Linked DNA regions of Homo sapiens: all the other regions are linked to region 1. The links come from fine-mapping of genetic effects on gene expression. A gene starts in region 1. Each other region holds a variant in brackets. All regions are shown on one strand. Distances are between the middles of the regions. Region 1 holds the start of PLEKHO1 (pleckstrin homology domain containing O1). Region 2 overlaps VPS45 (vacuolar protein sorting 45 homolog). Region 3 overlaps VPS45 (vacuolar protein sorting 45 homolog). Region 4 has its middle 27 kb from the start of LINC02988.

Region 1 (2,687 bases):
CCCTGCTCCTCAGTGCCAGGGATTTTTATTCATTTTGTGGTTACTGCATGCTTGCCATATGCCAGGCAATGTGTTTATTAGCTTATTATGATTTCAAAATTAGCCCTGGAAGACAACACATATCTTCAAAGGACTCTCAGAGGTCATCTCATATCTTCCCCTAGCTTTCCTTGTTGATAAAAATGGCAGTTCATCCCTCACCACTTAATACGTGGAGGGACGCGGGCCTAAAGAAATTCAGTGACTTGACCAAAGCCCAGAGTGGTGATGAAACCAGTACCCAAGCGCGGGGTTTCTCACTCCCCTTTTCCATCACACGTATATATATTAAAAAGACATGAAGTTACTAAGATGTGTCCTGGAGGCTCTGAGGCAGATCTGCTGTAGGAGGGATCAGCAGAGGCTTCTCTAGTCAGGGCATTCTCTGGGCGTTCAGCCCTTCCCTCCACTGGGCTCCAGCGCTGTAGAGAGGGTGGGGTTTTTACCTATCAGTATAGCGGGAAAAGATACCCAGGTGGCAGGAAGTTTAAGCCTCACCTGGAACTTATATTGAAAGCCACTTGGTAGAAAGGATAATGGTTTGGAGACAGAGTTCTATTCCTGCCAGCATTGACACTGTGTCTGAAAAGCCAGCATCGACACTGTGTCTGCAAATCCCTCAGCTATTCTGAGTCTCCGTTTTCTCCCTGTGAGATGGAGATCATAAAATCCGCCTCATCCTTAGGATTATTCTCCTGAAGCTACAATAAGGCCTGAGGCATTGTACGCTGGAAGAAACGTGTATTAATAGCAACTTCTGTCCCACCCCATCCCCCAACACGTCGATCCCCTCCGGAGCATAAAACTTTCCCCCAGCATCTGACCTGCCCAGGCCACCCTAGCACCTAGGAGCGTGAATTCCTGATGCGGGTTGTGGGTGGCGCGCCCTCCCGGTTCCCGCTCTCGTTTTTGTTTTTGGTCGGGTAAGGCGATGCTGTAGAGGCTGGCGATCTCCAGTCTTCACGAATCCGCACGTCTCTCCATTATCCACCGCGCCCGCCCACTGGGCCCCGGGGCGGCCGGCGGCCGGGTCTCTCGGGCTCCGCGTGTCGCCCGAGCCGCCGCCGGAGCGAGGGTCCCTGCCCCCTGGGGAGCGGTCTCCAGCCGCTTCGAAGCCGCCTTCTTCCCCCTCCGTGAGTCAGAAACAAAGGCGGGGGGGCGGGGGGAGCGCCCGAGCTGCGGCTCCGCGATTCGCCCTTTATTCTGAACTCGCAACGTCAGCGGCCCGCGGATGGAGCTGCGGGGTGCGGACTGGGCCGCCCACAGCGCACCGGGCCGGGGGAGCGGCCGCGCTGGGCCGGGCGGGCGGGTGGCGGGGGTGCGCTCGGGGACCCGGGCCGCGTGGGCGCCGGGATGGAGGGCGCCAAGGGGCGGGGAGCGGGCGTGCGTGTGTGTGCGAGTGCGAATGCGAGGGAGGCCGGCCTTGAGTGAAACCGGAGCTACAAAGAAGGGGAGAGTCCGGGAGCGGGAGGGCGCGAGGGAGGAGCGGCGGCGCCGGGGCAGCTCCGACGCCCTCCCGCGGGGAAGGAGCCCCCGCGGTGCCGCCGAGGCCCCGACGCGGGGCCGCCCCTCGGCTCGCCGCCCCGCGCCCGCGCCCGCTGGGAATGATGAAGAAGAACAATTCCGCCAAGCGGGTGAGTGCGCTTGCCCGCCCTGCGGCCGCCGCCGCCTCCGCGCTCTGACGACCCCCGCTCCGTCGGCGCCGCGGCGGCCTGGGAGACCCACGGCCCGGCCGCGCCCCCGCCCCGGCGGCCCGGTCCCCTCGGCCTCGGCCCCGCCAGGCGCCCGCGGGGGCTTTTGTTTGTTTACTCGCCTCGGGGGGCTTCAACTTGGCTGAGTTTCCCCACGACCCGCACCTCCCCCGCCCCCGGGCGCCGGGCGAGCGTTTGCCTCGCGCTCCGCCGTGGCGAGGAGACAATGGGAGAGAAAACCAGAGAAACGCCGTTAGTCCCCGCGCGGCGAGGACGGGGCGGCGGGGGCGCAGGGCCTGGAGGGAACCTGGGAGCCTCTCCGCGCCCGGCCGGCGCCCCTGCCACTTGCAGCCCCGGTTGTTTATTCGGGAGCGGGGGAGGGGAGCGGGGGGAGTTCCTCGGAGTGAAAACCTTTCCGAAGTGGGAGCGAACCTGGGGCGGCCCCCCGCCCCCCGGCCGCAGCCTTCGGAGGAGACTGGGCCGCCGAGGCGGTCGTGAGAGACGGACGGAGAGGAAGCGCCGGCTGGAATCTCCTAACCGCCCGCTTCTCATCTTGTCCTGGGGCAGGGACCTCAGGATGGAAACCAGCAGCCTGCACCGCCCGAGAAGGTCGGCTGGGTCCGGAAATTCTGCGGGAAAGGGATTTTCAGGGAGATTTGGAAAAACCGCTATGTGGTGCTGAAAGGGGACCAGCTCTACATCTCTGAGAAGGAGGTGGGTGCCTCTTGCCTCTAACTCTCCGTTTTCTCATAGCCCCCACTTTGTCACTCCCCAAGGGCTCGCCTAGCTTACTCCACCCCCGTTTTGTTCCAAAGGCAAGTTCAGTGGTCTCCTCTCTACCCCCATCTCATCTGCAGAGAAAGGCCACCCTTTAATGAGAAGACCAGAGTGAGAATTAGAAGTTGAGTTGGCCGCTTACTCAGTGTTTTTTTGTTTGCAAATACCTTTCTAACAACG
Region 2 (2,687 bases), 25 kb before region 1:
ACCTTGCAAATAAACGAGCATCTTGGTTTGGATTTTGAGCTGGCCTGCCTTAGCACTTCACAGGTCGATCAATATTAAAGAGTTCTAGTCCCTGCCAGCAGTAATTGACACCTTTAAGTTAGCTGTGTGAGCTGAGAGGTCAAGAACCCAATCCATATAGATGGAATTGTTATCGTAATAGGCAAAAATACCTGTCTTCATGGGATTCAGGATAGAAGTAGAGGGAAAAAGGGTGGCTAGGTGAATTCATTAGCCAATAGCGCTGCCATTGCTTGAACACTATGTGAACTTTATTTAGTCTCCAGTTCTTCTTAAAACTTTTGACAAATAGAAAGACATATCCTGCTAGAAGATGGCATGAGAGCAACAATTCTCTCGCTGCCAGATTCCCTTTCAAGCCAATAATAATTACTGTACATAGTATATTCTTTGTCATAGTACTAGATCCAACTAAGCCCTCATTAGCTATAAACCTAAAGAATAATTAATGATCCCATTTTCAATTATTTTCCCCATAAGTAGCAAAGACAGATAGTGCTGGCAAACAGGTAAAGGAAAGTAGGCATTCCCCTTGACCAAGTAATTCATGCTCATTGTTAAAAGGAAATGAGGCTGAACACGGTGGCTTACTCCTGTAATCCCAGCACTTTGGGAGGCCGAGGCGGGTGGATCACGAGGTCTGGAGTTCAAGACCAGCCTGGCCAACGTAGTGAAACCCCATCGCTACTAAAAATACAAAAATCAGTCAGACGTGGTGGCGTGCACATGTAGTCCCAGCTACTCAGGAGGCTAAGGCAGAAGAATTGCTTGAATCTGGGAGGCAGAGGTTACAGTAAGCCGAGATCGCGCCACTGCACTCCAGCCTGGGTGAGAGACCAAGACTCCGTCTTGGAAAAAAAAAATGAATTATAAAAGTAAAAATCATTCATAATACCACAGCTCAGAGCTAATCACTGTTAATATGTTGGCTTTTTTTCTTTTTTCTTTTTTTTTTTTTGAGACAGAGTCTCGCCCTGTCACCCAGGCTGGAGTGCAGTGGCACAATCCCGCCTCACTCCAACCCCCCTACCTCCCGGATTTAAGTAATTCTCATGCCTCAGCCTCCCAAGTAGCTGGGACTACAAGCCTGCAGCATCACACCTGGCTAATTTTTTTTTTTTTTGTATTTTTAGTAGAGATGGGGTTTCACCATGTTGGCCAGGCTGGTTTTGAACTCCTGACCTCAAGTAATCCGCCT[G/A]CCTTGTCCTCCCAAAGTGCTGGGATTATAGGCATAAGCCACTGTGCCCAGCCCCTTCTAATATTTTTTTAACCTAAATGTTTTAGAATTTTGTTTATGTTTTGTTTTTAACATAAGATCTATAGAGTTTTTTTCTTTAATCATTTGAGAACATTTTCCCATGTTACTAAAAAGTCTTTAAAACAATCTTAATGGCTATATAATTTTATTTTTAAGGATGGGTCTTTATTTAACTATTACCATTGGACATTTAGGTTGTTTACATTTTTTTCACCAGCATATTCAGCTGCAAGTTTACTTTTATTTTTTATTTATTTATTTTTTTGCTTTTTTAAATTTTTAATTGACATGTAATAATTTTACACATTTATTAGGTACAGAGTAATATTTTGATACATGTATACAATGTATACTGATCAAATCAGGATATTTAGCATAACAGCACATCAAACATTTATCATTTCTTTGTATTGGGAACATTCAAAATCTTCTTTTTTCTGTATTGGATATGTATTTTTTATTTTTTTTACTTTTTTTATTTATTTTTTAATATATATATATTTTTATTATACTTTAAGTTCTAGGGTACATGTGCACAATGTGCAGGTTTGTTACATATGTATACATGTGCCATGTTGGTGTGCTGCACCCATTAACTCATCATTTAAAAAATGACGAGTTCATGTCCTTTGTAGGGACATGGATGAAACTGGAAACCATCATTCTGAGCAAACTATCGCAAGGACAAAAAACCAAACACCACATGTTCTCACTCATAGGTGGGAATTGAACAATGAGAACACTTGGACACAGGAAGGGGAACATCACACACTGGGGGGAGGGGGGAGGGATAGCATTAGGAGATATATTTTTTATTTTTTTTATATTTTTTAATCATTTTTGAGATGGAGTCTCCTCTGTTGCCCAGGCTAGAGTGCAGTGATGTGATCTCAGCTCACTGTAACCTCCACCACCCAGGTTCAAGGAATTCTCTGCCTCAGCCTCCCGAGTAGCTGGGATTATAGGCGCCTGCCACCACTCCCAGCTAATTTTTGTATTTTTAGTAGAGACGGGCTTTCACCATCTTGGCCAGACTGGTCTTGAACTCCTGACCTTGTGATCCACCCGTCTCAGACTCCCAAAGTGGTGGGATTATAGATATGAGCCACTGCCCCTGGCCAAGCTTACATTTTTAATATAAATAATGCTTCAATAAACATCTTACGTACTGATAAAACTTGGTCCCCATCTCGGTGGGGACAAAGGTTTAAGATAAACGTATAGTGAGGCAGTCTGAAATATTGCCAGTAGAAGGATAAATTAGTATAACTTTCCTAGAAAGCAATTTAGCATTATATATTCTAAGGTATGGGATTAATTTCATGGCTTTTGTTGTTGGGTTTTTGTTTTGTTTTGTTTTTTTGAGACAGAGCCTCACTCTGTCGCCCAT
Region 3 (2,687 bases), 60 kb before region 1:
TTGATTTTATATCTTGGCTATTTTGAATAGTGCTGCAGTAAACATAGGAGTGCAGATAGCTCTTCAACATACTGATTTCATTTCCTTTGGATATATACCAAGTAGTTAGATTGCTAAATCATATAGTAGTTCTATTTTTAATTTTTTAAGGAATCTTCATACTATTTTCCATAATGGCTGTACTAATTTACATTCCCACCAGTTGTGTGTAAGGGTTCTTATTTCTCCACGTCATCATCAACAACACTTACTATCTCTAATAAGAAACAGCCAAGAGTCAAGATCCAAGTGAAGGTAAATAGAAAAGGGCAGAGACTGATTACTGCAAATAGTCTTTGACTGTCATCATACCAGTTTTGTGAATTTATAGTTACTTGGATTTCTCAGATTTGCTTAAAAGTACAGAGACAGATCAGCCAGAAAAGGTGGTAAGAGAGTGACTGCAAGGGCAGGAAATGAGACATTGTGCCTATAAGAAAAGTAACAACAGAAATCCCAAATGGGATTTCTTTTCTTTTTAAAAAAATTTTTTAAAATTTTTATTTATTTATTTGAGACAGTTTCACTCTGTCGCCCAGGCTGGAGTACTGTGGCACGTAATCTCGGCTCACTGCAACCTCCGCCTCCCAGGTTCAAGCAATTCTCCTGCCTCAGCCTCTTGAGTAGCTGAGACTACAGGCACCCGCCACTACATCCTGCTAATTTTTTGTATTTTTAGTAGAGAGGGAGTTTCACCATGTTGGCCAGGCTGGTCTCGAACTCCTGACCTCAAGTGATCCACCTACCTCGACCTCACAAATTGTTGGGATTACAGGTGTAAGCCATGGCACCCGGCCCCCAACAGGATTTCTTAATGTTTTAAACTTACGCTGTTGATTGAGATACATACATAATTTGTACCTGAAATTTCTTCATATTATAGTAGAAAATAGTGGAACATTTGAACAGATACCCTAAATGGGCTGTATTCCGTGGCTGCTCTAGGGGAAAGATCCCATGAAAGGAAAAAAATAAGAAAAATCTTACGAATTTGGGATCGAAATCTACAGAAGAGAAGTTTCTCCCTTTTTGATCCCTTAAGGATGATGGTAGTGAAATAGTAACCCAAAAAATCAACAATAGAAATCTCTTTCAGAGAACTCTGTACTTGAAAGCTACATGGGAGGTTCCCCATTATCATCATAGTCCCTAGTCAGTGTGAACAGAAGAGCTCTTAGACATTGGACATGGTTGTTGTCAGGTACAAAAGAGATAATGTACGTGAAAGCATTTTGTAAGTTGTAAAGTAATCATATAGTTGATAGTTATGTCCTCAGAATTCAGTGCCCTTCAAGGCTCTTGCCAGCCTTTCAAACCAAGCCATTTCTTCCTCTGATTTCCATATTTATTTTGATAGTGCCACTGCTTTTGGTCTCTCACACTGGTTCCAATACTTACTGATTCTTCAGGACCTTTGGCAAGTGTCACCTCTGTGAAGTCTTTCCTAATTTCTCAACAACCCAATATACTTTCTCTTCCCCTTTCTCTCCCCTTCCTCTTTTGCACTGATTTTCAGCTTTTGCTTTTTGTTTTGTTTTTTGCATACATGTTTCTGTTA[T/C]AACACCACATATTTGTTCCTGAAAAACCTCATATTCTATAAAAACATGCACTAAAAAAAGGGTTATGAGAATATAGGGTTATAAGCAGACCACTTAAAATCTACATGACTATAGAAAGAAAGAAAACATTCATATAATTTTTAAATCAGAGCCCTAATAAAAATAGTAACAATTATAATAAAAATACTAGCATGGTTAAATCTCCACCGGCATTTGCACCTAGAAATAGAGCCAGTCCATCCTCTGCAGCCTTATTCCTGGGGCTCATGTTTTCTTCAAATTATAAGGTCTTGAAAATACTCACTTCTCATAAAGACTACTTTGTCAAAATTAAAAATACCATATGGAGACAGCTTTCTTCATCAATCAGTGTTTGATTGTTATTTTGTTTTGTTTTGCTTTTTTACACAGTGCAATATATTTGCATCCTTTTTATTTGCACTTGCCCTTTCCCCATATAGCATAACACAGTGGAAAGTGCAACAGTTCTTGAAGCTACAAAACCAGATACTTCTTGCAGAACACACTTCTGTAGGATTATCATCTTTTTTTCTTAAGGTATTGGTAAGGCTTCCCCTTTAATCATAAGAAAGCCTATCCATTCTGGAAAAATTACATGTGAACCAATATGCCTTCTGTGTTAAACTGACACCATTTCCATATTTATCCATCTCACAGAACTAAAGTACATTAAAGAAACATGTATATAGCAGAATAAATTATATTACTTTGATCATCCTTCACCCCATTGACTGTGAACTCACTGGGGACAGGAATTGTCTTTAACTTATCTGTGTGCCTGCAACAGTGCATGACATACTGCCTTATGGGGACTCAAAAGTATTTGTTGACTTGAATTAAATTATTTGTTCTGCTGCATAATAAATATAAATCTATACTATATGGAAGGTCCTGAATATGAGGATTAAAAAATGTAAACATGGCTTCTCCTGGCCCCCTTTCCTATCGGTACCTGCCTCTTAAAATCATTAAGTACTAAATCTAGAGATTACATGCTATTACATACTCATCTCTGTCAACCATGTTGAGACATGTTCTGATGCTTCTTAGAGATCAAGCCCAGTCTGT
Region 4 (2,687 bases), 38 kb after region 1:
CCTATTTGTTTCATTTTTTAAAATTGGACTGAACCTTAGGAGAAAACAGAAAATTGTACTACATTCTTGCATAGCTAGCTAATGTAAATAGCTTCAAGCAACAAACTAGATATTATTGATCCGTTTCAAAAGAGCTGAGTCAGGCTGTACACGGTGGCTCATGCCTGTAATCCCAGCACTTTGAGAGGCCGAGGCAGGCGGATCACCTGAGGTCAGGAGTTGGAGACCAGCCTGGCCAATGTGGTGAAACCCCATGTCTACAACAAAAAAATACAAAAATTAGCTGGGCATGGTGGCGCGTGCCTGTAGTCCCAGCTACTGGGGAGGCTGAGGCACAAGAATCGCTTGAACCCGGTAGGTGGAAGTTGCAGTGAGCCAAGCAGAGATTGCACCACTGAACTCCAGCCTGGGCTGGAGGTTTTTTTCATCTCGGGAAAAAAAAAAAAAAAAAAAAGAGCTGAGTCAGATTCTGACTTGTCTAACGGACTCAGTCGTGATGTTTTGCCTGTCTGCTCCAAGTTCCCCTGTTCCAGACACATCTCTCACAGCATTACAATGATCTACATGCCCTAGGAATAGCGACTTTCCATCATCTGCCTCATCAGAGCAAATAGAAGTGTAAGTGGCAATGACGTTAGTGTTTGTGTGTGTGAAAACCTAGTGTGAATTTTCCCTTCTCTGGCAAAAGCTCACAAGCCATCATTATAGAAAAGCAGAAGAAAAAACTGCTTGTTCTGCTTTTCCTGACCTCAGAAGCAGTAGTTGTTAAAACTCTTTAAAAAAAAAAAAATGGGGTCTTGCTATGCTGCCCAGACAGGTCTCCATCTCCTGGGCTCAAGCAGAGCTGGGACTACAGGCACACCACCACACCAAGCAAAACTGTCTTTTGATTTAAAATTACTTAAATACCTCTTTAAGGGTCTCCTATAGTCACTTATCTTCCAGTTACCTAAATCACTAGCTTCTTTTTTTTTTCCTTCAGAGACCCC[G/C]CCCAAAGTCACATCCGTTGCAATTATCGGGCAGGTACTGCCCTCTAGTGTTTATACTTTTATAATAAAAATTTTACACACTACCCTTTTAACTGACCTCAAAGCATGGAAAATCTGTCAAAAACTAAATAATATCCTATTAACCCAAGATTTTTCACCTTCACACTACTGGCATTCTGATCACCCTTTGTTGCGGGGCTGTCTTGTGCACTGTGGGACGTTTTGGCAGCACCCCTGGCATCTTCCCACTTGATGCAGTAGCACTCCCACACACATCCCGGTGTGACAACCAAAAATATCTCCAGACACAGCTAAATGTCCCCAGGGGAACAAAATCACCCCTGCTTGAGATCCACTGTATTAGTCTAAAGGTTGTCCAAAACATTCACATTAGACCTGAAAATTGTAAGGGAAAAGGGCTTCTCTGGGCTAATTCCATTGAATGAGATAAAGAACTTCATTTCTGCATGAAAAACAAGGAGGTAGAGAATTAAGATTTTCAGCTCCCCGCCTCCACGTACCCGCAAAGTCCTGGCCATTGGGACATTTTTTACACCTTTAGCTTTCTGTTCCAGCTTTACCTCTTAGACCTCTTCACTTCCTTTCAAAGTGCATCACAAACAAAGCTTGCCCTTCTAGCCAAATGCAGAGAATGTGGTAGGGAAAAGGAAGAAGGGAGGTCTGAGCATTTGTACTCAAAAAAAGGGCTCTGGCCAGATGTGGTGGCTCGTGCCTGTAATCCCGGCACTTTGGGAGGCTGAGGTGGGCAGGAGTTCAAGACCAGCCTTGGCAACATGGCAAAACCCCATCTCTACTAAAAATACAAAATTAGCCGGGTTCAGTGGCAGGTGCTTGTAGTCCCAGCTATTCTGGAGGCTAAGGCATGAGAATCCCTTGAGCCTAGGGGGCAGGGAGGCTGCAGTGAGCCAAGATTGCCCCACTGCACTCCAGCCTGGGCAACAGAGCAAGACTCTGTCTCAAAAAAAAAAAAAGGAGAGGGGCTCTAGCAAAGCGTTAAGGCTCAGCATTAATAATGCCAGCCAACCAGGAACCTGTATTGATTGTCAGCCTAATATGAAAATTCTTATCAAATATCAAAATAAGTTTCAAATCTGGCTTTTAGAAAGATATTTAGGAGGGTTTATTCCAATCTGCTATGAATGATTATTCTTCATACAAGTGCATTATGCTTATAAACCTTGGTTCTGTGATTTTTTTTTTCCAGACGGAGTCTCACTCTGTCTCCCAGGCTGGAGTGCAGTGGCACGATCTCAGCTCACTGCAACCTCCGTCTCCCGGGTTCAAGCAATTCTCCTGCCTCAGCCTCCCAAGTAGCTGGGATTACAGACGTCCGCCACCACACCCGGCTAATTTTTGTGTTTTTAATAGAGACGGGGTTTCACCATGTTGGCCAGGATGGTCATGATCTCTTGACCTCGTGATCCGCCTGCCTCAGCCTTCCAAAGTGCTGGGATTACAGGTGTGAGCCACCGTGCCTGGCTAGTTCTATGAATTTTAACACTTGCAAATTACTGAGAACTTGATATTTAAAAAATAAAAAAGGAGTTTGGACTGTCACTAACTTCCTCCCCTCATCAAATTTCTCACTGACTTAGTTGATTTCACTGAAGAACTAAACAAAAAATAAGAATAATCGGGCCGGGAGCAGTGGTTCATGCCTGTAATCCCAGCAGTTTG

The links. PIP is the estimated chance that this variant, and not a neighbour inherited with it, causes the effect.
Region 2: its variant is fine-mapped to the expression of PLEKHO1 in whole blood (TOPMed, PIP above 0.99).
Region 3: its variant is fine-mapped to the expression of PLEKHO1 in whole blood (TOPMed, PIP above 0.99).
Region 4: its variant is fine-mapped to the expression of PLEKHO1 in whole blood (TOPMed, PIP 0.99).

The regions. Positions count from the first base shown.
Region 1 is chr1:150,148,615-150,151,301 of GRCh38, forward strand. PLEKHO1 (pleckstrin homology domain containing O1) reads left to right here and starts at 1,302. Exons shown (of 6, transcript NM_016274.6): 1 at 1,302-1,673; 2 at 2,298-2,444. The coding sequence starts at 1,644. RefSeq lists silencers at 930-1,389, 1,530-1,609 and an enhancer at 1,242-1,742.
Region 2 is chr1:150,123,569-150,126,255 of GRCh38, forward strand. All of the region lies in intron 14 of VPS45 (vacuolar protein sorting 45 homolog), which reads left to right. Among named protein-coding and RNA genes, the nearest start is that of PLEKHO1, 25 kb to the right of the region's middle. The variant G/A (reference allele first, on the strand shown) is at 1,238.
Region 3 is chr1:150,088,826-150,091,512 of GRCh38, forward strand. All of the region lies in intron 10 of VPS45 (vacuolar protein sorting 45 homolog), which reads left to right. Among named protein-coding and RNA genes, the nearest start is that of VPS45, 22 kb to the left of the region's middle. The variant T/C (reference allele first, on the strand shown) is at 1,598.
Region 4 is chr1:150,186,455-150,189,141 of GRCh38, forward strand. No RefSeq gene overlaps it. Among named protein-coding and RNA genes, the nearest start is that of LINC02988, 27 kb to the left of the region's middle. RefSeq lists a cis regulatory region at 364-650. The variant G/C (reference allele first, on the strand shown) is at 990.